7 linked regions of the Homo sapiens genome follow. The protein of the gene in region 6 purifies or fractionates together with the protein of the main gene of each other region. This does not show direct contact. Each region holds a gene or a part of one and is shown on either strand. Other genes may lie near its edges.

The links.
Region 1: the proteins of ARRDC4 (region 6) and MYO1D purify together in Homo sapiens (affinity purification with mass spectrometry; one large-scale study listed by BioGRID and IntAct). This does not show direct contact.
Region 2: the proteins of ARRDC4 (region 6) and MYO1B purify together in Homo sapiens (affinity purification with mass spectrometry; one large-scale study listed by BioGRID and IntAct). This does not show direct contact.
Region 3: the proteins of ARRDC4 (region 6) and XPOT purify together in Homo sapiens (affinity purification with mass spectrometry; one large-scale study listed by BioGRID and IntAct). This does not show direct contact.
Region 4: the proteins of ARRDC4 (region 6) and RHOBTB3 purify together in Homo sapiens (affinity purification with mass spectrometry; one large-scale study listed by BioGRID and IntAct). This does not show direct contact.
Region 5: the proteins of ARRDC4 (region 6) and MTR purify together in Homo sapiens (affinity purification with mass spectrometry; one large-scale study listed by BioGRID and IntAct). This does not show direct contact.
Region 7: the proteins of ARRDC4 (region 6) and IPO9 purify together in Homo sapiens (affinity purification with mass spectrometry; one large-scale study listed by BioGRID and IntAct). This does not show direct contact.

Annotation. Positions count from the first base shown.
Region 1 is NC_000017.11:32,755,125-32,758,624, forward strand, and holds part of MYO1D (unconventional myosin-Id), read right to left. Parts: intron 539-3,500; coding exon 368-538; intron 1-367. UniProt on the Homo sapiens protein: Unconventional myosin that functions as actin-based motor protein with ATPase activity. Plays a role in endosomal protein trafficking, and especially in the transfer of cargo proteins from early to recycling endosomes.
Region 2 is NC_000002.12:191,384,904-191,388,403, reverse strand, and holds part of MYO1B (unconventional myosin-Ib), read right to left. Parts: intron 2,521-3,500; coding exon 2,320-2,520; intron 1,181-2,319; coding exon 954-1,180; intron 1-953. UniProt on the Homo sapiens protein: Motor protein that may participate in process critical to neuronal development and function such as cell migration, neurite outgrowth and vesicular transport.
Region 3 is NC_000012.12:64,410,892-64,414,391, forward strand, and holds part of XPOT (exportin-T), read left to right. Parts: intron 1-3,500. UniProt on the Homo sapiens protein: Mediates the nuclear export of aminoacylated tRNAs. In the nucleus binds to tRNA and to the GTPase Ran in its active GTP-bound form. Docking of this trimeric complex to the nuclear pore complex (NPC) is mediated through binding to nucleoporins.
Region 4 is NC_000005.10:95,783,336-95,786,835, reverse strand, and holds part of RHOBTB3 (rho-related BTB domain-containing protein 3), read right to left. Parts: intron 3,040-3,500; coding exon 2,873-3,039; intron 1-2,872. UniProt on the Homo sapiens protein: Rab9-regulated ATPase required for endosome to Golgi transport. Involved in transport vesicle docking at the Golgi complex, possibly by participating in release M6PRBP1/TIP47 from vesicles to permit their efficient docking and fusion at the Golgi.
Region 5 is NC_000001.11:236,889,292-236,892,791, reverse strand, and holds part of MTR (methionine synthase), read right to left. Parts: coding exon 3,456-3,500; intron 1,660-3,455; coding exon 1,463-1,659; intron 1-1,462. UniProt on the Homo sapiens protein: Catalyzes the transfer of a methyl group from methylcob(III)alamin (MeCbl) to homocysteine, yielding enzyme-bound cob(I)alamin and methionine in the cytosol. MeCbl is an active form of cobalamin (vitamin B12) used as a cofactor for methionine biosynthesis.
Region 6 is NC_000015.10:97,959,568-97,963,502, reverse strand, and holds the start of ARRDC4 (arrestin domain-containing protein 4), read right to left. Parts: upstream 2,801-3,935; 5' UTR 2,642-2,800; coding exon 2,335-2,641; intron 1-2,334. UniProt on the Homo sapiens protein: Functions as an adapter recruiting ubiquitin-protein ligases to their specific substrates. Plays a role in endocytosis of activated G protein-coupled receptors (GPCRs).
Region 7 is NC_000001.11:201,870,657-201,874,156, reverse strand, and holds part of IPO9 (importin-9), read right to left. Parts: coding exon 3,299-3,500; intron 2,997-3,298; coding exon 2,830-2,996; intron 1,330-2,829; coding exon 1,196-1,329; intron 1-1,195. UniProt on the Homo sapiens protein: Nuclear transport receptor that mediates nuclear import of proteins, such as histones, proteasome and actin. Serves as receptor for nuclear localization signals (NLS) in cargo substrates.

The sequences.
Region 1 (3,500 bases), on a different chromosome or scaffold from region 6:
TATTTTCCATGCCAGAATTATCAGATGCAGGAGTAAAATTCTAGCACATGAGCAAGGACTCTACATCTATTGGTTACAAATGACATCATGCTTTCTAAAGAATCATGCTCATTTTTCCTGTTTCTACCAAATTGCATAGTCTGGAGCTCCCTCTCCTGGATTAACATGATTTTATCAATTTCTTCATACTATAAACCAGAGAGGCAGAATTTATCCACAGCAACAAATCATTTAATGAATGTTTATGACTTTTCTTTCTTATTAAAGGGGACATTCTTTTATCCCAACATATAAAGTCGTTGAACTCCATCAAACAATAAGGAGAACCTCACAGATAAAAGGAAGAAGGTGTCATTAAACACATTACCTTTCGGCTGGAAAAATGGGCGTGTTTGCCCAATTTACTGTTAAGTGCTTCAAGAAACATTTCATCGGTGACTTTGCCGACATTCATGCAAGCATCATCAAGGATTGCAATGATCCCTTTGTGCTGTTGCTCCACGAGGTCAACAATGATCTGATTGTTGAAGTAGTCAATCTGTAGGACACAGCAAGGAGGGAATTCTGAAGAGAACAGTGACCAGGCCAGGTTAAACCCTGATGCTCCCATTTGTATCAGGAGTTCAGGTAAAACTACTTTGGTGTCAAATGTGTGAATAACATTAAAGAGGTCTTACGCTAAAAAGAGTACACATTCTAACAGAGGTTTATTTTTAAATTTCTTTGTTAACTTTCTATCATGAAATACACCGTCTGAGATTAGTACAGCCCAAGGCAAAGATAATAAGGTAGACACCATTTCTCCCATTACAAACTCATTTTAATCCTGCCTCCAGATCCCACACCCAACCCTACTCCTTCATACCAATCTGCCTGCCATTAACTGTAAGGTCCACCTTCCACAAAGGGCCAACAAATAACCTTAAAGTATTATCTGATATACTACTTCATAATAAAGTTAAGGTACTACACAAAACTTGCAATTTTATAAAAGTAGGGTACAAGTTAAATGTTTAGTTCTAGAAATTTTGTGCAATATGTTCATAACGATGGCTGCAGTTGCCACAAAGTGCCTCGTTTACCTTTAAATACTGTTAATGTGTCACGCATGCAGATGGAAGGGGTGGAACTGTGCACTAAAGTGGGGGCTTTAACTGTAGTGTTTGGCAGAGTTGCCTTCTACCTGCCAGTTCAAAAGTTCTGTTTTCATGCAGAATATATATACTAAAAAATTTCAGTCTTTTAAACAGCCTTACTCTGATTCAGCCTCTTCAGATACTCTTGTGCTGTGCAGTAGTGGCTCTATGTGTAAATGCCATGCACTGAGGGTACACAAAAATATCAACATTATGTGTACAGGATAATGCCTCATCCCAATCAGATGTCCATTTGTCATTGTGTTTGTTAACAACCCTTTATCTCTTAGTGTTAAATAAACTCCACTTAAAACGGAAAAAAAAAAAAAAGAACTTGCATTTTTAGTTACATGACCCTGAATGACTAAAATCCAAAAGAGCATTTCTTTTGGTTTCCCCAAAGTTAAAAAGCTTCAATAGAATTTTGAACAATTTGAAAAAATTCAGTAGAATTTTTACATTTTTCTAGGCATAATATAAAGAATTTAATTCTGAGAAATAAATATCTATAAAAGATAAGAAAAAGCTTTTCCTTTACTTCCACAAGGTGAATGAAGTTATAAATAACTTCTGGCTTTTCAGCAACTATACATGTACAAGGTTTGTCCAACAATCCTCTGCCACACCTGTTTATTCTGACAGCCTGCAATGTACCTATCACTACACACAGAAGGCACACAAAGAAAGGCCAACTCAGGCAAGCTGCACATCTCAAAGAGGGGCAGCTTATGATCACACAGTTTAATCTTGCTATGTCCCATCTTACGCAGGAGTTACCTAAACTGATTGCTGTCTCCATTACCTTCTATAAGGTCTATATACTCATAATAGACCATTCAAGTGACTCATGTATTCCCATTTCATGCTTTAAAATCCAAGGTTTTATGCCAGTTATTTGTACATGGCTTTTAGCTCCATTTCTAGTCTTGCATGTTCTCTTCTGTATCTTATGGACTGAAACCTGTAAACTGGGTAGTTTTTACTTTGTTTTTTATACTTTTCTGATCTGTCTAAACTAAAGTTTCTCAAATAGGGGAATAGGGGGAATTTTGCTCACCAGGGGACATTTGGCAATATCAGGAGACATTTCTAGTCAAAATGGGGTAGGGGTGCTACTGTCATTTGGTGGGTAGAGGCCAGGGGTGCTGCTAAACATCCTACAATGCATAGAACAGCCTCCACAACAAAGAACTATCTGGCACAAAATCTCAGTAGTACTGAGGTGAAGCAGTGTAGGTCTAAATATTTACTTTCATTATGGGCATTTATTACATTTCTAATTAGGGAGAAAAGTTATTTCCATCTTTGGAAAAAAAATCCTAAAAATACTCAAAAAGCAGGAGCTCTATATTAATAGTTGACATCTTAGACTTCGGGACTGTGAAATTAAAGACGAAGTCTTTTGTCCCAGGGACTAAAGAATTACCTTCCCTAAAATCCCAATTATATTATTAAAAGCTATTGGTCTCTGCTAGTAACTTTCAGTTTGTAAGTTTAATACTGCTTCAAACATTGCTTAAACCAGTAGTTTTCAAACTAAGTTCTTCCAGCAACTTGGCATTCCCGTAAGGTTTCCTAAGGGATACCAGGAGCCAGAAGACTTGTGATGGGGTAGCTTAGGGACATGGGGCTCTGGCCTTTCATACCCACTCCAGATAAAACAGCTTTGTGCTTGAGTATCAAGTTCTCAATAGTTAAAATGATTTGCAAACTACAGCATCGAAAGCTTTTAAAAGTGAATGTACCAGATAACCAGACATTATGAACCTCCTGGTGGAAGTTCACACACAGTCTATGAAATGGGCTGTGGAAAAAAACTGACTCTGAATCCAGTCAAGACTCTAGATCTAACAACCAATATACAGGACATACAAGAAACAGAGAAACATATTAAATGGCACCTGAGGAATGCAATTAGCAAAATCCAGACTGTGGGGAACTCCATAACAAATGACTCATTCTCTTCAACACAAGATTGCAAAGAGAGATCATTCAAGGAAAAAAAGAAACATGGAGAAAATCTATAGATATGCAAGAGACCTATCAATCAATCATAATGTAAGAAACTTATTTGGATCCAAATTTAACCTGCAAAACAACAACCAGAAGACAATTAAGGAAATATGAAACATGTATACTGACTGGATATTTTATGATATTAAGGAATTTTTGTTAATGTTTTAGGTATGATAATGGCATTGTGATTATGGTTTTTGTAAAACTCTCTTAGAGAAATACATGGAAATATTTACTGAATAGATACCCAATTGAATAGATGAAATAATGTGATATCTGAAATTTGCTTCAAAATAATCTGGGAGTAGGTGGGTATAGTACAGATGGCATAAGACTGGCAATCAACTG
Region 2 (3,500 bases), on a different chromosome or scaffold from region 6:
AATACACACATAGCAAACTCTAATCCTAGTTGGTCTTTACTAAATCTAGAGAGAGTTCTGTCTAAGATGCCCTAGAAGCAGAAAAAGAGAAGAGCCCAGAAGGCTTTTTCCTTTTTTTTTTTTTTTTGAGATGGAGTCTTGTATTGTCACCCGGGCTGGAGTGCAGTGGCGTGACCTCGGCTCACTGCAACCTCTGCCTCCAAGCGATTCTCCTGCCTCAGCCTCCCAAGTAGTTGGGATTATAGGTTCCTGCCACCACGCCCAGCTAATTTTTATATTTTTAGTAGAGACAGGGTTTTGCCATGTTGGCCAGGCTAGTCTCGAATTCCTGACCTGAGGTGATCCACCTGCCTCCGCCTCCCTAAGTGTTGGGATTATAGGTGTGAGCCACCACGCCCAGCCCTTTTTAAGAAGGTCTTTCTACTGCCTTGAAAAAAATTCAGATTGCTTTAGGAATCATTACTTTCTCCAGGCCTACACCTCTCACAGGGAAGAAAAAAGTGCATGTCTCCTAAGAAGTGCCAGAGCAGTTAACTAAAGCACTTGCTTCAATGCTGTGCTCTAAGCTAATAGAACAAGAATCCCAAATGAAGCCAACAAGAGTTTTCTGCAAAACACTGACCAGAAAAAACACTTGCATTTTGTTTTTTAACTTGCCATTAAAAAAATAATAATAAACATACAGAAAGTTGAAAACCCCTAGGTCTCAACCACTGAGTTTCATTAAATATCTACTATCTTCTCCACCACACTTTACTTTTTTACTTTCTTATTTTAGGGGAAAGGATAGTGGAGCATTTTTTAAGCCAATCCCAGATAAGGTATTATTTAATCTGTAAGTATTTTAGTTACCCTCTGCTTGGGCTACACTCAGATTGAAGCAAAGGGAAAAATGATATTCCTTCGGGGTGCTCTCACATTTGAACTGTGAAAGTTTCATGTGCCAAAAATACCTAATATAGTTTGGGTTCTTGGTCTGTAGGTTTTTCATCAGAGTGGCCACGGATGCCTTGAACTGTGAGCCTGCTGTAGGAGGCCTTTTCAGGTTGATCTTGGCGGGATTCCCTTCGGGGAACAAAGACTTGATGAGGGCATGGCTGGCCTTCCACATGGCTTGGGACAGGTCTCGATAGAGAAGGTCATTGTTTTTGTCAACGAATCCTTCCACCTGGTACAGCACCTATAAGCAGCACATGTAACTCAATGACAGGCACATTGCATGCTATAATGTCAAACAACTATTAAAAATACTCCAAGACTATCTACATTGCAGCCACTTCCTTCACCATCAAAAAATCCCTGACATGTTAGTCACACTCTCATAATGAGTTCGCCTCCAAGTTTAAATTCCATCTGTCTAAATCACAGACAAGATCAAAATAAATTCTATTACCATTCAGGATTTGCAAGAATAAACTCCAAAAATGTTATCATAACATTTTCAAAGGATTTTGCATTTTTTAGGAGTCTGAACATATTCTGGGGTTTTACTTTTATTTTTTAGTTCTCACATACCAATTCTAGTCTGTTTAAAAGTAGATGGGGCAAAATAGAAACAATACTAACACTTTCATAAATATCCTGAGCAGCAGAAAAGCTGATCAGAAATTATCTTTTAATAATATACGCTAATAAAAAAAATAAAGTACCAAGTTCTAACATTTTGAAATTAAAGGTAATTCAGGTACTATATACTTTTTACAAATGTATAATCAAGAAGTTTTTTTCCCTTTGAAGTTTGCAATTTTATGAAAAAGGAAGTATTAGCTCTAATCAATATTCTTTCAGGATTCTAAAGATTAATCAATTAAGATTGTTTTTAGCATTGTCTTTATATATTAGACATAAAATTAATTCCCCCAAATATTAACCAAATAAATAAGTGTTTTAAAAAAGTAAATATTTTCCCTAATGTCATTTCAAAATCTCAAATAATTCATTATTTTTGCTAAATGGCTTGTGTTTTTAAAGCCTTAAGTCTTTATTGACTCTTAATTTGTACTGGCAAATCTCCTTCAATAGTGTTAATAGATATTTTTTATAGGATAGCTTAGAGTTTGAAAATAATAAAGATGATTCAAAAATATATTTAGACTCTTCATTAAGTCCATTAGCTTTGCTTTTGATTTTCTGTATTAATAAGATTTTAGTCAACATGGTCCAGATTCTATTTCTATTGAACATTTATCGATTCAACCACTTTAGCAGCTCAATTTGTCCTCACAAGTTAATGGGGTTTCGAACGCCCATCTCTGAGGTACAGCCTCCTTGCAGGGGTAACTTGGCAGGCCTGACTGGGTGCTCACAGCTCCCCCATACCTTTCCAGCATAATGCTGGATCCTGAAGCAGCTGTGAGGCAGAGACGTGTCATTGAGGAACCGAGAGCACTTGCTCATCCTGCTCTCAAAATGCTGGTGGGTGGCACATACTTGGTTCAGCTTTTCTAAGAAGGTCTCATCAGTGACTGTGCCAGGTCTGAGGCACTCTTCATCCAGCATGGCCAGGATTCCATTTGTGTTCTGGGAAAACGGAAATAAAAAAGTTTCCTTCCTTCCTCACTATATTGTTTTAATAATTATTCCTAATTACACCATCAAACACAATCAACTTAGTCACAAGAAAAGTCTGTTCAGTTATAACAAAAAGCAGAGACTCAAAACAATAACAAAAGCCACAGGAATCAGCTCTTTCCTGAAGGATCCCAGGTGTGTGTATGGTGGTGTGGTTGGGAAGAGTGTGTCTTCTTGGTTCCTCTCTCCTCGCACAGAACAACAGTACCTGGGAGTTGCCTCAGACACCTTAGCCTGATGATGACTGAAATTTATACTCTTACAAAAAGACAAGTTGGACCTCAAAGATTCAAAAAGAAATCTAAAAGCAGAAATGAATGTGACAATACAGCCTCTATAACATGTCTCAAATCACAAAGCAGTCTTCTAAGGCCATTATTTGATTCACTCCTAAGAAGGAAACTCGTTTTCTATGTTTCCAAATTGTTCATGTGTTCAAAATAAAGTTTATTTCCTAGAAAAAAATGCTGTGATTTGAGATGCTGCTTTTAACAATCACTGCAATCAAACTGATTTCAAGAATATCTGTTTCATATAGATTTAGATTTTAGAAATTCATGTGGAATTTCTAAATGGATGTTAAACATAAGTGAAAATTTATTTGTTGCATATCTAGACCCTGTGGTCATTTTTATTCCAAGAGTAGTCAGCCCTAAACTGAATCAGAAGTCAGGAAGCTTCTACTTTGCTAAATAAAGACTGCTACTCCATGGACTGCCCCTATGGGGTCATAAGTCTTAATTCCAAAAACAATCCACTCCACTGACCATCAACCCCACCTACTTCCACCCAGGCAAAGTCCTCTGTTCCTCTCCCCTTCTGCTAACAAGGCCACGACATCCTCTGACCAGCATTTATTCATTCCACACAAAACCCTGGGGAAGCGTGGACTCTCAGGAATCAAGTGTGTTCATAACATCCCCAGAACA
Region 3 (3,500 bases), on a different chromosome or scaffold from region 6:
AAGAGGCATTTTCTTTTTACTTTTCATAGCAAAGAATACTTTTTATAAATGAGCTAAATGAGGTTAACAATCTCACTAAAAATTATAGCAGTTTTTATTCTTATTTTAAGAAAAAAATCTTTTAAAGCAGTAAAAAACAATCCCAACTAGTTTCTAATACAGTACCATGTGCATGTCTCTGCTACTAAATAAGTAACGAGCCCTTCAGATACAGGAAAATAATAGGAATTGAGATTTAAGTATCTGGCTAATTACAAGATACCTATCAAACAAGTTAGGACATCAAAAGACATTTAAAATCCATGTCTTCTGTGTGTAAACAAATCTTTCTTGTCATAGGGTTTTATGCTACCTACCTTCAAACATAGTTGAAGTATCATAGATCTTTACCTTTAGTCTAGCTTGGTATTGCATGCTTGTAATTAAAAGCCTTTGACTGTATGTTTAGTTATTAAATGGCCTTTACTGTTATTTTTATGTGCCTCTTGAAATCTTTCATTTCTTAAGTTCCAGCATCCAATTTTTGGATGAAAGAGGCATTTTCTTTGCCTCTTAAGTTCCAGCATCCAATTTTTTTAAATGTGCCATGATTTCTTTTTCAGAAAATTAAAACCAATACATTATTAGTGGTTTTAATACAGAAGCTCTGCTTTTTGTCAGTAAAAATGGGTTCTGTCACATACGTGTTTTAAGCATCCAGGTCCAGGCATAATTCAGTATCCATTTAGCCAATCTGAATAACAATTTATTAGGATGAAAGGGAAGAAATCTTAAAGTGAATTCTGAAAGCCCTTTTGTTGCAGTTCGGGAGTAGTGGAAACTTAATTCAGTTTGGTGGTGAGAAGAATGACTGTCTGCCAACCCCAATTGCTCAGTTGTCTATCTGTAATTCTCTGTTTTTTACATGGGCAATAAAAGTTGAACTGACTCTTGTCACATAGAGTCAGTCAACCATTAGAAAAAAGGTATGGGGTAGAACTAGGTGGTGAAAGCTAGGACTTGTTTGTCAGTGTTGTAGAATTTTGTTTTTTTAATTGTTAGTAATGCATAGATTCAGAATACAAAGGCTTTGTTTAAAAACTAAAAACTTCCACGTTATCTCTCCTCTCCTTCCTCTCACCCCTGCCCCGCCCCCCGCCCTTTTTTTTTTGAGACAGAGTCTCACTCTGTTGCCCAGCCTGGAGTGGAATGGCACCATCTTGGCTCACAGCAACCTCCAACTCCCGGGTTCAAGAGATTCTCCTGCCTCAGCTGGGATTAGAGTAGCTAGGATTAGAAGCACACACCACCACGCCTAGCTAATTTCTGTATGTTTGGTGGAGACGGGGTTTCACCATGTTGGTCAGGCTGGTCTCAAACTCTTGACCTTGTGATCTCCCTGCCTCAGCCTCCCAAAGTGCTGGGATTACAGGCATGACTCACCGCGCCCAGCCTCCTCCTTTTTAAAAAATAAAACACTCGTCTTTGGCTTAAAACCTGTTATTATTTAAAGAAAATGGTATGTCATGACATTTCTAGCAGCTGAAACCACCTCTCCCCTCTTTTGTAAGTGAAATATTAGGTGGTAATGCAACATACATGATTAACTTCTACCTTGTCCTCTGGCCTCTGAGATATTCCTAAAGAATACCCTATGTTTCATGGACTGCTGTTAGAAACAACTAAGCTAGTACTATCTTTTATAGCTGCCTGTGTTCTTATAGTCTTAACTTCTAAAGAGAGACATTATTTACTCTGGGCTGTTTTCCAATACCAACAACCAACTCTCTTGATTTCTGTGGACACCAACTGGGTGTCCTACAAATCAATTCAATTCTGACACTACCAGGATTAGCATCACATCCCACAAGTTATGGGCTCGGTCTTACAAACCGCCCCCACTTAAGACACTAATTGAGTCCAGAACCTCTCATATTTCTGATGATGGAGTAGCCTACAGAACTTAGAAAAACAGTTGACTTTCTTGTGCTGATGAAGGATCCACCTCATGAGCAGCCACATGGAAGCGATGCATAGGGCAAAGTATAGGGGAAGGGGCACAGAGCTCTTGTGCCCTCTCTAGGAACACCACCCTCTCTAGGAACACCACCCTCTCAGCATCTCGATGTGTTTGCCAACCTGGAAGTTCAAGAGTTTTTATAGAGCTGAATCTTGAGTCCCTTCTCCCCTTCCCAGAGGTTGGTGGTTAGGGTAAAAGTTTCAACACTCTAATCAGTTGATCTTTCTGGTAACCAGCTGTATCCTGAGGCTGTCTAGTGTTCCCACACCAAGTTACCTCATTAACATAAACTCTGTTGACCCCGAAGTCTCTAGTGATCCTTCCACCTTAGCCTCCCAAGTAGTTGGGACTGTAGGTGCACGTCACCACTTCTGGCTAATTTTTAAATTTTTTGTAGAGACAGGGTCCCACTATGTTGCCCAGGCTAGCCTTGAACTGCTGGCCTCAAGTGATCTTCCAGCCTCAAGTGATCTTCCCACCTTGACCCCCCAGAGTGTTGGGATTATAGGTGTGAACTGCTGTGCCTGGCCCAAAGGACTCATTATAAATAACAAAAGACGGTCCTGTCGCTCAGGAAATTTTCCAAGAGTTTTAAGGGCTCTGAGCCAGCAACTGGCTGCAAAGCCCAAATGTATTTTTTCGTTATACCATATATTTAATATTATATTTGGTGATCTTCACCTAATCATCTTCATTTACCTGGTCTTCTGTCAGTGGGAGCAGCCATTGAGACCATGTATGAAAACCCATTCCCTCATTCATACAGTTACATAGTATAGGAAACTATCACCTAAATATAAATACAGTGGCTTTGATCTGTAACCCAAAGAAAAAAATAACTTTACATCTCGATGACCCAGTGTGTGTGTATATATTTATAGGTACATATGCACATAAATAACTAAAACAAGTTACAGAAAGTAATATTCTTGCTAGGGTATAGTACAGAATATCTAATATTCTCTATTTCATTTTTAAAAATTATTGTTCAGGACCCATAAACTGATTTCATCACTAGTGGGAGACACCACCGTTTTAAAAATATTTACCAATTGAAATTAGGTTTCTCTAAGGCTAATGTTTCTTTTACCTCATGTCAGCTTTTGTTTCATACATAATTGCTGTCAAATCATCTAGCAGTGCTTCCAGTTGATGTGCAATTTTCTTGTCTATTGGAGATACTTGTCACAAGATGTTCACTACTATTTGTCCATTGCCATGTGTGAAACCTGCATCTGGTGCAACATGCTGATGGGAAGAGTGCCTGAAGTAACTCCCATTTTCCCAACAGTTTGGTAGAGAGCGTATGGACTTGGTGCTGCATCCATTCTAGAGTACTCTTGCTCCTTGTTGGCACTGTTACTTGTGATTACAAGGCCCTGAATTCATAAACTTAGAGATAAAAAACTTCCTCGAGCTTTGACCTTTTCAGTTACTTAATATTTTTCAAAATTCATATCATGCACTTGTACTCCAATTTTAATCTCTTTAGGGAACTTAC
Region 4 (3,500 bases), on a different chromosome or scaffold from region 6:
TTGACGTAAGAAAATGGGTTCAAACTGAAATAAGCAACAGAATTTTTAAAAAGGCATTAAAAAACCATAAACCAAATGCAATAGAACTTAAGAGCTACAAGAAGAACGTGGAGAAAATACCCATAAACTCACAAGAAAGTACCTGGAAACTCTCAGAAATACAACTTGTGCCTCAGATAGCCAAATATTAACATATAGATTATAAATAAGAAGATGCATTAAAATTTTTAATACAAGAATAAATACAACTTCATAGGAATCACCAAAGTTTGAACAGATAGGGTTTAAACAGGAGTAGAGATACGGAATCTCCACCTCAACTCTTGTATTTTAAGAGTCCTCCTTGATGGAAACCTGAAGGTAAATCATGGTAAAGAACTGAGAGAGGTTAGGGGAAAATGGACAGAGAAGTGAGAGAATACCCACACTGCTCATCTATCTAAGAAAGTATGAATGATGTTTCCTGACACACAGTACAAAACTGGCAGAGTGTTCAGAAATTTTGATTATTTGGAGAGCTACTGGGAGTCTAATTCTGCCAGAAGACAATTTCACTCCTAAAAGTCAGAGAAATGGCAAGGCAAAAGTTAACCAAATTCTGACCAACAGGGTGAACTGACTGGTGAAGTGAAATCTCAAACTAGGAACTTCAAAGAAAACTTGGGAAGAAAACTTCTGTTATCTGGAATTCACAATTGCCAAATTAGGAACCACCAGGAAAAGAATACAGGAAAACTGGTAAATTTAGGCTTAATCTTAGAAAATAAAAAGTCTTCAGAAACAAAATTCAAAATGAGCTTGTATCTTAGATTGTTTGAAATTCAAGGGGAAAAGATAAGGATAATCACAGAGTCAGAAACCAGAGAATCAGGGAAAACAAGTCAAGAATTTCTGACAGTGCAATCAAAAATGATTCTGATGAGGAACCAAGTGTAGGGGGGCAGTGAGGGGAGGCACCTAAAGAAATCAATGTGACCACACGGGAAGTTCTCTTATACATAAACAATTTAAGAAGATACTAAAAGATAAGGAAAAAGAAACTTGTGTCCAATTTTTTAAAAAGTATGAACAACTTGTTAGAATAGTATGAAAATGATACATCAAAAATGAACTGAGATTGTGAAACTACTAGAAAGAATTTTAAAAATTGTAAACTAAATTTAGAGGGGAGCTATTTATCATGAGATGAATGTAAACGTTTTACAAAAAGAGATCAGTGTTACTCAATTTTTTTTTTTTTTTGAGACGGAGTCTCACTCTGTCACCCAGGCTGGAGTGCAGTGGCACGATCTCGGCTCACTGCAAGCTCCGCCTCCAGGGTTCACGCCATTCTCCTGCCTCAGCCTCCCAAGTAGCTGGGACTACAGGCACCCGCCACTATACCCAGCTAATTTTTTTTTGTATTTTTAGTAGAGACTGGGCTTCACTGTGTTAGCCAGGATGGTCTCGATCTCCTGACCTCGTGATCCGCCAGCCTCGGCCTCCCAAAGTGCTGGGATTCCAGGCGTAAGCCACCACGCCTGGCCCTACTCAATTTTTAAATTTGTTTTTAGCCCTAATTAAATACATGTGATCGTAAGACTTGATTATGAGAGAAATGAAGTCCAAAATAGTTAAGGAGATAGTAGGAGAAGACCTAGATGCTTCAAATAAATTCCCTTCTATAAACAGAAGTGTTGATGAATGAATTCGTTTCAGCTTGGAGGCAAGCATTCAGCTGTCACAGATCTGGAATTTGCCCCATCATGTGGCTCCATTTTAGCAATGTGGATGGAGATAAAAGTTGTCATGCTTTTGTAACCCTGGACGTCAAAGTTGATAGGTATAGACATGTTGGATGCCAGATAATAGTTCAAGAAGTACTGACACTCTGTAGTGATTGAACAAATATATTCCTGTGAAAAAAACCTAGAGGGCTCGGCTTACCACAAGTTGAGTACACAAGAGTGTGCCATAACTACCACAAGTGCTGAAACTGTCTCGGGCAGTGGATGGAATGGCAGAATGGCCAACGGTAGGATGGCCCATCTGAATAAGCTTTCTGCTTCCAGGAATGAAAGAAAGTGGGAATAAGGATTTGGCAGGTTTTTGACTGTGAGCACATCTGGGGGTTTGGGAAGTAGATTTCAACACAGTAGTCCTAGTTTATTTACAGACCTGGCTCTGATTCATAATTTAGGGCCTCTGTAACTGCAGTTACTTAAAATTAACTTAATTATGTAACTCCCCCACCCCCGTTCTCTAAAATCAGTAATGATATAATTATTGAAAACAAAAGACTCCGAGCTTACAAGAGGCCCAGAAGAAGCATGTACACATACGGCAGTGATTGCTAATAAGGTGAGACATGAAAACAAAAGGCATTCTGCAAGGATAAATGAGGCACACCAATATCTCCTACATACAACTGAAACTTCAAAACATGTTCATTATATGGATGAAAAAATGAAGAAGTAAATTAGTTTAGCTTAACCATCGCTATCAGTATATATGGACCAATTCTGTCATTTCCCTTTTAGGAACCTGAAGATGTGATTGTTTGGGGAAATTCAACATAAATTCTATTTCCTACAATGCCTATGTGACATAGTATAGCACCACATTCAAATGACTCTACTAAGGGCCACTATTTAGTTAAAAAAATTCCGTATCTGGACATTTTGCCTCCTTATAAAAGGGACTGCACACAAACCCTAACGCTTCAAAATTATCTAGCCAGATAAACTGTTGTGAAGGCACTTTAGCCTCATTAGCCAAACTTCCAAACTAAGACTAGTATTAACGTATGTTAAAAAATGATAAATTTTAAAATAGTATAATTTGAAAAATATTTTATAAAAAACTAGGCTATCAGATACACAGAGTCAATTACCTTGGCCTTTTTAAGCAGGTCAACTATATCAAGGTTCATGGATGCCAGTTCCCTGCTTGGCATGCTCTGCAGCTGGGTAATGATGAACAGCTCACAGATGTGCTGCAGTCTGGACACTTGGTACATCTCGGCACAGATCAGGAGACACATGGCCTGGAATATGCCAGCTGATGAGAAAAGGGACATGAGAGAAAGTGGATGATGAAACCATTTCTTTAATGATCTAAACACCCCCCACCAACAAAAAACAACAATTAAAAAAACATGCTGACCGTAGCATCCACCATAGAATAGAATGGTTAGGAAAAGCCTCGAGGGAGTCAGCATTCTGCACTTTTATTCCATTTTATCTTTTTTTTCTTTCCTTTCTTCTTCTTCTTTTTTTTTTTTTTTTTTTTTTTTGTAGAGACAGGTCTCACTATGTTGCCCAGGCTGGTCTTGAACTCCTGAGCTCAAATGATCCTCCTACTTTGGCCTCCCAAAGTGCTGGGATAACAGATGTGAGCCATCACACCCGGCCTATTATTCCATTTTAAAAAGAAGGGCCGGCGCAGTGGCTCACACCTGTAATCCCAGCACTTGGGGAGGCCGAGGTGGGCGGATCACGAGGTCAAGAAATCAAGTCCAT
Region 5 (3,500 bases), on a different chromosome or scaffold from region 6:
GTTTTTGAACAGTTATGTCTGTAAAAGAATAGCCACAAATTCCCTAGTGAGGAGGGGCTGGAACTTAACATTAGAACCCCAGTGCCTTATATTCTGTGGCGTCCGAGCCTGGGCGCATACAGTGAGGATTTACTGAGCCTAAGTGCATATGGTAAGGATGTAGCTGTCCTTGTTTAATTCTTCATGGTACTGCTGAAGGCCCCAAATTTAAGAATCCCTTCAGATGCTGTTATGGTAAAAATATGGATGATTATGAATTATATTGTGGTTGGGATTAAAATGCGCCACTATCTTTTTTGTTTGTTTTTTAGAGACAGGGTCTCACTCTGTTGCCCAGGTTGGAATACAGTGGCATGATCATGGCTTACTGCAGCCTCGATCTCCTAGGCTCAAGTGATCCTCCCGCCTCATCCTCCCGAGTAGCTGGCTGAAGAAGTACAGGCCTGCACTCCCCAGTGCACGGCTCATTTTTAAATTTGTTTTGTAGAGACAGGGTCTTGCCATCTTGCCGGGGCTAGTCTCAAACTCCTAGGCTCAAGCAATCCTCCCACCTTGGCCTCTCAAAGTGCTGGGATTACAGGTGTGAGCCACTGTGCCCAGCCAACATTATTATTTCTGAACGACTGAAAATGGCAGTAAAACAGAGTAATTTTCTGCAAATTATTAAATTTGTTAATGACTCTGGTGAATTCTGGTTCCAATTCTTGATTAAGACACTCTTTTTTACAGCAGCTAAAGGGACATGCATATGATATTTGCCTTTTCAAAGGTGGGGGGGATGAGAGACAAGTTGCTGAGAAGAGTCTGTTCTCGTCACTCGAAAGAAAAAAAGCCAGCACAGTCAAAGAACGGCCACTGGGGATATGTACAGGCTGGGCTCTCCTCTCTATATTGGGGGGCCCAGCACAATCTCCATCATCCTTCATCTTCTCTGTAAAACACAAACTTAAACTGCCTCACACGGCTGTGTGGAAATTAAAAGCATGACCATCAAGCACCTTACTATGCACCTGGCACCTGGTATACATTCTGCAAATGTTTGTTTCCACCTGTCTTCCCCTTTCAAGGGAAGCCACCTGACAGTCTATTTTAATAATATGCATAGATATTAACCTACGTTTTTGAACAAGTGAGTGTTCTCTTTCTTCAGAAGCTAAGAAGACTGAGATCCTGACACGTGACCACCTGAGACAGCAGCAATGGTCCTCGCCCATCCATGGAACACAATATTAAACGCCTCACTCCTGCTGAGTGGTCCTGCCTCTGACACCCATGGTGGCGCCTTCTCTCCCTCGTCCTCACAGATGGCTTGGGCTTGGGCGTGTGACTGGTCACTTCTTGGGCATGTGATTGGTCATTTGGGAGGAGGTGAAGCAGACCCTCATTTATGCAAAGCTCTTTTGTGTAGTGCTTAAACTCACAAGCGAAAGCGGTGTGCTGGCTGTCAGTACACCTTCCATACCTGTTGCCTTAACCCATAGAAGGTGGCTATGGGCTCTGCAGCCTGGGGCACAGCAGCCTCTGCGTACAGGTGAATGTCGTCTTGGATACTCTGTGCTGGCCAGAACCCAACCACACCCCGGGCCCGGAGTTTCTTTTGACTAATCAGTGTGTTCAGCATATTGTGGGCATCATCGTAGACCTTCCTGGCCTCTCCACCTATTAGAAAAACAGAATTAGAATTCACTTAAAGATGCCAAAAATAACCATCAAACAATGCTTCTTTTAAAAGCCATTACCCCTCCTCAGTCACCTTCCCTCTTCAGGCTTCTCCATTTTCCTCAAATGCTTTCTGGTGTTTGCCACTGACCCAGCTTAAAGTGGAACAGCCAGGGCTTTGCGGCTCCTGCTAAGTGCAGCTCCCACAGTCTGCTTCTCCCAGTTCAAGCCACTCAAGTTTTCCACTGGACAAAAAGCAGAGAGCCAAAGCTGTGGCTCCCCAAAGCATTCTGTCAGAGAGGATGAGAAAGAGCAGGCCACATTCCTCACTGACATTCCTCGTGCACATACAACTCCACTGACTTTGCAGTGACCTCTGGGAGACGCGACCTGTGCCTCGTATTCCGTGGTGCTTTTAATCCCAACTACAATATAATTCGTAACGATTGACATTTTGACCGTAACAACCTCTGAAGGGATTCTTCAATTTGGGGCCTTCAACAGTACCATGAAGAGTTAAACAAGGACAGCTACATCCTCACCCTATGCACTCAGACTCGGTAAATCCTCACTGTATGCGTCCAGGCCCAGACACCACAGAATACAAAGCATGGTGAATATAAGGCACAGGCCCCGTCCCCCAGAGGTCGCTGTGAAGTCAGTGGAATTGTATGTGTACAGGGAACGTTAGTGGTAAGGGGTGAAGTGTGGCCCAAATCCTCACATGTGGCTTCAATGCTGCACCTGGGCTGGCCTGCTCCCGGACCTGCAGTGGGAGCCAGCCTCCGAGGACACCATCTCGGTTTCCGTGAGACTCGGCCACCCTGCCCATGGTGAGAAGCCTGTCCCACGGCCCCTGGACAGCTCACCTGTGATGATTCAGGGGCAGCACACTAAGAAGCCCCTTGCTCATCACCACGTTCCTGACTACCTGAGAGTTCCTGAGTCTCAGCATCCGAACACGCACACCCAGGCACGCCCCCCCGTGGGAAACTTGGCAAAAGGCTGGTTTCTAGGCTCCTCTCAGCCCTAATCCCATGCTTCTGTGAGTCTACCCCTCCCTGCTGCTCTGATCTGGCTACTACCTGATCCTTTGAATGGCTTTGCATTTGGATTCCGTGTCTCTGTCGGTGGATTCTGGGGTAAGGCTAGAAGTGAGAAGTGGGGGTAGTAATTTAACACCTCACTTACTTCTCTAGTTTATCACCCTAAATCCCCATTCCCTCCCCAATGCTCCAAGCACAATGGGCTCCTTGCAGTTCCCCAAATAGGCACATGTGCCTGTGCCTTCTCACACTGTCTCCTCTACCTGGAATGACCTTTTCTTCAACACCATATCACATCCACAGTCCCAGCCACGGCAACTCCCACTGAATCGTCAAAAACAGTTCGAACACCACCTTGTCCAGGAAGCCTGCCCTGACCTCCCAGTCTGAGCTCTATCTCCTCTTATGTCCACAGGAGCCCAGGCAGGGCCCATTACTATTGGATGTGCCAGCTAGTCAGGTGCTAGACAGCAGGGATTATATTGTCTTCCATTTATCCCTAGTGCTCAGCATGTAACTGATGTCAATAAACATTTATTGAAAGAATAAAGTAAATACCAAATTTAGTTGATGCAATAAGGACCAATCTAGCAGATTGAAAACCATTAAAAAGTTGGGCAGGTGAGCAATATGAAAGCAGCCGTAATCTGCACAATCCAAATCCACTGCTCCTCACCGATTCCGGTCTTCAAAGTCACAATCCCACAGCTTGAATATCAGAGGCAGAAAGGAAGGACTTACTGCACTAACCTACTGTTTTGTCGTTAAATATCTTGGGAAAGCCTCGATTCGGGT
Region 6 (3,935 bases):
GAATGAGAGACATGAAGTTCCCCTTTCATTAAGCAACAAATCGACATCGGATCTATATCATTTAAAATGAGACTTTCAACTATCTCAAAACATAAACAGGAAAAAGAAATGGAAAAACTGATAAAAATGGGTTATAATATTTGGAATTCAATCTTTGTTTTCTTTTCCTCTTTCTCAAGTTTTGTTTTTAATGTAAAAGGTTCACAAGCTGAACCATGTGCCCATTTCTGCTTCTGCACCAACCGCTCATTATTTCTGTCTTGTATACTGAGCACTACAAAGTCACAGGAAGATGTTTCAATCACTAATGGCCTTACAGCCAAAGCTCATAATTAAAGGTTTTGATGAGCCGTGGGATGCAGAAGACCATTACAGAGGCAGAGACTGGGGCTCAGGAAGGGTGAGGGACTTGCATAAGGTCACACTGCTGGTGGGTGACCAAGAACTGAGACCAACTCTCTGATTCTGGCTTGTTTTCTACTACAGTTTCTCAATAAAAATATGAAGAAAATCAATCACAATGACAGCAAGTAGTTGAATTAGATTAAGGATGTCAAAGAATTATCTGGAGAGCATTTGTGAAAACAGATCCCAGTGCTACATAATATGGATTTCTAAAAATCTCCTTAGGTGATTGAAACACAGCCAGGTTTTGTAATTAAATTACCCCCAGAATCTAGACTGTGTAAAGATGCTAAGTTCTTCCAAGCTATAGATATTAGGGGTGACTTATTTTTTTTCCCCAACTAAAAGAGACTATGATTTTAAGCAAAATGTAATTGTGCCAATATGTGCTATGATACATTCTAAAACAAGTTTAAGATTTTCAAATTGTCTAGTTTTTACATTCTGTTCCACATGTGTATATATGTGTGTGTGTGACGAATAAACATCTGACTTGTGAATTAAAAAAAATGTTAGCCCAGATTTTACCAAAGCAGTTTTTTATTGCTAATCCCAGGTTCAACTGCTTTTAATTTTACATCTATTGACTCAGCAGTTATAGGCCCAGAGATACAGTCCAAAGTCCTGGACAAAAATCAATGTATGTCTCACTCCCAAGGTCCTTGACTCCATTCGGCCATCTTGCAAATTGTATTGTCTGCTTCCACTGGGGCCTGGGTTGATCCTGGAAGCCATACTGAGGAAAGTGCATGAAGGAGTAAGAACTATCACTAACACACTGTTCCCATTGATCCAAAAGGCAGTTTTGGTTCCAAATATAGTTTTCCTCACTACAATTTTGGGATGACTCAGATGATCACTTACCTCGAGGAGTTCACTGTGTCCACAGTAGGATAGGGCAAAACCACATATTCTATTATATTTTGTATAAGACATAGCACATAGATATAATGCGTTTACTCTTCAAGGAGAGGAGGTGCATACCATTGTTTTATTTGATAGATAAAAGCTCATGGCAAAAACGTAAAAGTTTAAACTAGTTTCCATCCATGAAATGAGTAAGACTCATGGTTCTTAGTATTTTCGTGACTAAAGGGATCCAATTTTGGTATCTAATATTAATGAAACGCTCATGTAGTGTGTCCCCACATGGGTACTTCTGGAAAAGTCTACACTGTGAACTGGACTTCACCAAAGTGAGCAGGAAGGGAAATCCCGACACGCCCTGATGCTCTTGTCTCTAAAGGCATTTTGAGTGGAGAGAAGTGGGGGAGAGGGGAAGAAGCGGGTAGGAGGGGAGGAGGAGGATGGGGAGGAAGAGGATGCGGAGGAAACAGCAGCAGTATCAGGTAGAGGTACAACTCTTACTAAGTTGCCCTGCTCCCCAGAAGAGGGAAACCAAGCATGATGATCAAGTCTGGAAAACACTTCCTTTGAACTCCTACCCCTCAGAAACTACTTCCCTATTCCCCAAACCAAATTTCTGCTAATTCATCATGAACCAAGAACGTATGCAGGATAGGGAGGAGTGGAGGCCATAGGACACGGGCACCGCAGAATGGAACCTCATAGCCGCCGGTTCCACCGTCCCTTTCTTGGACCAGAAGGAACAGGACCTAGATTTCTGGATCCCCCATTGTCCAATCACAGGTTCCCACCGCACCCAATGGCCCCCTCCCGTCGCGGTCCTAGAAAATCCCGAGCCACTGGTCCCGGTCAGGCCCGGCGGGCCAGGGGCGGGGCGCCAGGAAGAGCTGCGCACCCAGGACTTGCGGTCTCTCCTTACCCGCGAGGGTAGGCCGGACCCCACCCCCGGAAGCCCGCCCTGATCTCACCTGCCAGGTGGGCATCCCGAGGGTGCGCGGCCTCCCAGCCCCTCCCCGGCCCCGCAGCCTGGCGGGGGAACCCCAGGCGCTCGCCTGCGCTTACCGGCCGGGGGCTCCCGCAGGCTGAGGCGCACGTTCAGGTACTCCACCTCCGAGAAGACAGCCAGGGCCGCGGTGCTGGCCGAGGCGCGGGGGCAGGTGCTCGGGCCCCAGGCGGCGGTGGCGCGCCCCTGGGCCTCCAGGCGCAGCGCGCGCAGGGCCACCGGCTCGGACGCCTCCAGCAGCACGTGCCCGGCCACTGTCTCGCCGCTGGAATAGCAGCCCTTGCGCTCGTCCTCGAACACCAGACCCAGGCTCTTCACGCGGCCCTCGGCACCCACGGCCGCCGCGCACCCAGCCTCCCCGCCCATCCCGCCGGGCGACTCTTTCCTGCCCCTGAGGTCGGCAGAGGCCCGGAGCCGGGGTCGCGAGCACAGCGGCGCCGCTGTCACAGGCGCTCGCGGCAGGGTAAGGCCGCCGCGGCAGCCGTGCGGTACCCGATGGGGCACCGGCTCGCCGAGAGGCCTGTCGCTTTAACAAACCCAGTTGGGCCTGGAAAAGGGCCGGGACAGCCCACCCCCGGCGGGCGGCCATTGGTCAGCTGCGAGCCCTGCTTCTTGCTGATTTGTTGTAGATGGTCACTGAGTCATTTCATTGGCGCTCCCACGCGTGGGTGGGCGCAGGAAGGCCGTGCGTGATCAGGGAGTGTTGGCCAATCGGGAGGCTCCGGCGTGCACGTGCACAGGCCGTTTACTGGCTGAGGCCAGGCACAGTCCTGGAGCCCTGGCCAATAGTGAGGCGGTGCGCCCATGTGGACAGACAGTGGGAAACAGTATCTGTCAGGGAGGGGGCGGAACAGGGTTATCTCCGGCTCTCAGCGTGTCAGCCGTTCCCATAGTTACGAACGGGGGCGGGGTTTCTAGCAGCGTAAGGACTTTGCAGGAGCCACTGGGTTCTCGCTAAAGCATGAAGTTGTGGCTGTAACTGGCTTGTGTTTATGATTACATCTGCAATACTCGAGGGGAAATAGATGCTCTGGGAAACGGAACTCGGCAATATTTCCTTTTGAGATCTTGGGGGCCGGCCGCATCGGGACTTTAATGAATGACTTGGAATCTTCTAACCTCCAGGTTTTTGATCACCGCCTCTCCCAGGTTTCAGAATTCCCAGCCCATGTAAGAGCCATAGATAAGAAAAATGAGGGTTGTGGTTTTAAACCTGATACATCCCCTAAGGAGTTCTCCTCCTAAGCTCCGCAGTGTCGCTGTTAGGAATAGCTGGAACTCTGATTCTTCCTGCTGTAAATAAGATCATGAATCACATTGTTTTTGAACAACATCTGTCACTCAAGTTTCTGCCCCACCCGAAAGTTTCCTGACATCATTGTCATATCCACAGAAATTTCCAATTGCCTTGATGACTTGTTCCTCACGCCCAAGTTTCCTCCGGCTTGTCCTGCTACATTTTCCTTTTCAACCTTCCATTTTTTCTCTGTTCTGTTTTTTACCATCTTGCATAGCTGTCATTAGCTGGTCATCATTTTCTTAACTTTTAAGTTGTCCCCTTATCGACATGCCACGTTTGTGAGCTGTTATGTATTGATTAATCTCACAATGAAATTTAGCAATTTTCCTAAAAAAAAAACCTCAAAGTAAAGGTTGCTCT
Region 7 (3,500 bases), on a different chromosome or scaffold from region 6:
CACCACCCCTCAGACTTTCACTGTACCTGACTATATCCAGTCTCCAAAGAGTGACTTAAAGTTAAATAACTTTATTGTTTGGTATTGTAACAGTTCAGAAGCTGGGAGAGATGAGAGTTCAGGGATTAAAGGAGATACAGTCTTGTTAGTAATAAAGCTCTGAAACCAAGGAACTGTATAGAGCCAGTACTCCAGTCCCAATGACTTAGAATTTGAGAGACAGCGGAGGTAATTATAAATCTACATTAAAGATAGCAGCTCTATACTCCCTACCTGCAAATCATTGGAGTTACAGGCCAAAGGCAACTCAGTAACAAAGACATGCTGACTATCTGTGCCCACGCTTCTGAATGAAGCTGGAAGCTGGGATGCTTGGTGCCTGAGACTATTTTTGTCTTTTTTTTTTCTTCAGACAGAGTTTTGCTCTTATTGCCCAGGCTGGAGTGCAATGGCGTGATCTTGGCTCACTGCAACCTCCACCTCCCGGGTTCAAGCGATTCTCCTGCCTCAGCCTCCCGAGTAGCTGGGATTACAGGCATGCGCCACCATGCCTGGCTAACTTTGTATTTTTGGTAGAGACGGGGTTTCTCTATGTTGGTCAGGCTGGTCTCGAACTCCCGGCCTCAGGCGATCCACCCACCTCGGCCTCCCAAAGTGCTGGGATTACAGGTGTGAGCCACCACGCCTGCATTTTTTTTTTTTTTTTTTTTTTGAGACGGAGTCTCATTTTGTTGTCCAGGCTGGAATGCAGTGGCACGATCTTTGCTCACCGCAACCTCTGCCTCCCAGGTTCAAGCGATTCTCCTGCCTCAGCCTCCCAAGTAGCTGGGATTACAGGCGCCCACCACCATGCCTGGCTAATTTTTGTATTTTTAGTAAAGACGGGATTTCACCATGTTGGTCAGGCTAGTCTCAAACTCCTGACTTCAAGTGATCCATCCGCTCTGGCCTCCCACCAAGTGCTGGGATTACAGGCGTGAGCCACCATGCCCGGCCTATTTTTGTCCATTTTCCACAACAGGAAGAAACCGTATGTTCTGATCCCTTTTACCTAAGTTTCCTGCTTCTTCTTTATCAAACCCATCACCAACAATTGTTTTAAAAATATACACCACAGTGCATTCCTTCCCTTCACCCAGGTATCCTTAGCCCCTTCGTATAGGGAGAGGATTGGAAGAATCGCAGCAGCACCCACTTTTGGCTGACTTAGAGCGGGTGCGGATGCCCTCATCCATGCTGTAGATCTCCTCTCCCTTCACACGGATATCCTGTAGCCGTTTGTCATCTGCATTGATGCCATGCTGGAGCAGCTTACAGAGTGCCACAGAGCTGGCAAGGAAGATCCAAAAAAAGGTCAATCAGCCGCCCATCTCGAGTTCACTCCAAGGAGATAAGCAATTATGTCCTAAGACCCTCTATTTGATAGTGAAAATTCCGTTAACAACTAATTAGGAGAGCTAAGAGAGTTCAGCTGAAAATGAGATTTTAGAGTTCATGAGGTGGTTTAATGAGATCTGTGCTTTTTTGTTGTTGTTGTTGTTGTTGTTGTTTTTGAGATAGGGTCTCATTCTGTCACCCAGGCTGAGTGCAGTGGTGTGATCATGGTTCACTGCAGCCTTGACCTCCCTGGGTTCAGGTGATCCTCCCACCTCAGCCTCCCAAGTAGCTGGGACTATAGGCATGCGCCACCGTGCCTGGCTAATTTTTGTATTTTTTTGGTAGACACAGGTTTCACCATGTTGCCCGGGTGGGTCTCAAGCAATTCGCCCACCTCAGTCTTCCAAAGTGCCGGGATTACAGGTGACCTGTTCTTCTTGAACAAAGCTAAGGTTGCACCATATTGTAAGGTGCAACGAGGTGATAAGAATCAGTGGTATAAAAATCCAGGATAAAAAGTTAGGAAGCCAGGGTTAGAAGGTTGGGTTTTTTATTTTTATTTTTCTGAGACAATTTCGCTCGTCGCCCAGGCTGAAGTGCAATGGCGTGATCTGCCTCCTTGGTTCAAGCGATTCTCCTGCCTTAGCCTCCCGAGTAGCTGGGATTACAGGCACCCACAACCACATCCAGCTATTTTTTGTATTTATAGTAGAGACAGTGTTTCACCATGTTTGCCAGGCTGGTCTTGAACTCCTGACCTCCGGTGATCTGCTCGCCTCAGCCTCCTAAAGTGCTGGGATTATAGGTGTGAGCCACTGTGCCTGGCCAAGGCTTGGGCTTATAAAGGAAAATAAGCCACTAGCAGCACTTAGCTGTGTGAAGTCTGTGGTAGAGAAGGGATCTCTTGTAAACAGAGACCAGAAATATATAGTCTACCTGTGTTGACTGTCTTTTGGGGATTTCAAGATGGCAGCTATTCACATATGTGCGTTAGCAATAAAGAAAGACAGGGAAAAGGGAATACAGAGAGCCATTTGAAATGTCAAACAAAAATCAATGGAGCAAATCAGGAAAAAAAAGAAATATGTGTCAGGAGCAGTGGCTCACACCTGTAATCCCAGCACTGTGGGAGGCCGAAGTGGGTGGATCACTTGAGGTCAGGAGTTCAAGACCAGCCTGGCCAACATGGTGAAACCCTCTCTCTACTAAAAACACACACACAAAGAATTCACTGGGTATGGTGGTGCATGTGTGTAATATTCGGACGGCTGAGGCAGGAGCAGGAGAATTGCTTGAACCTAGGAGGTGGAGGTTGCAGTGAGCCAAGATTGTGCCACTGCACTCCAGCCTGGGCGACAGAGCGAGACTGTCTCAAAAAAAAAAAAAAAAAAAAAAAAAAAAAAGAAATATGAGTGGTGGCAGAATGCCCAGAAAAGAAAGATGAGGTTCTACCTGACTTTGCCTTCATACTGTCCATAGAACAGGTGCTGTCGGCTTGTCCACTCAGCCATCACAAACTCTAGAGCAGGTTTGCCAGTAGGTCCTGGGAGGCTACACAGGAACTCCAAGAGAGGTTCTAGCTGAGTGTGCACCAGATGAGCGAACACCATGATCAGGGACTAGGAGAAAATAAGGACATTTGCTTCAGGGAAATCAATTTCAGAGACATAGGAGATGAGAGGGAACTGGCCAGTCAGATAAGAAATACAGTCTACACTGAGGGTATTATCCACAGGACAAGAAAACATGGGAGATTTCCTTGTCCATGTTTCTTAGGCCAAACAGATCAGACAGGTCCCATTTTACTTAACTGTCCTACAAGGCTAGTAAGAGGGTAAAATAAAATAACTCAGGACCAAAATACGAATTTTCATTTCTATCAGCCAGGGAGTAGGAAGCCCACTCCCCACTGCTCTCTTACCTGCATGACACTGAGCGTCTCTGCCTGCTGCATCTTACTGAGGATGGCACGAAGAATCTGGTCTAGATTCTCCCCGAGTTCCCGCCCTGCCTTGGAGATGAGGGTGGAAACAAGGCGGCCCACAAAGGCCGCAGTGAACTCTGAGGTGCGGGGGTCCAGGAGCTGGCTCACCACTTGCATCACATACCACAGTCCATTGTGG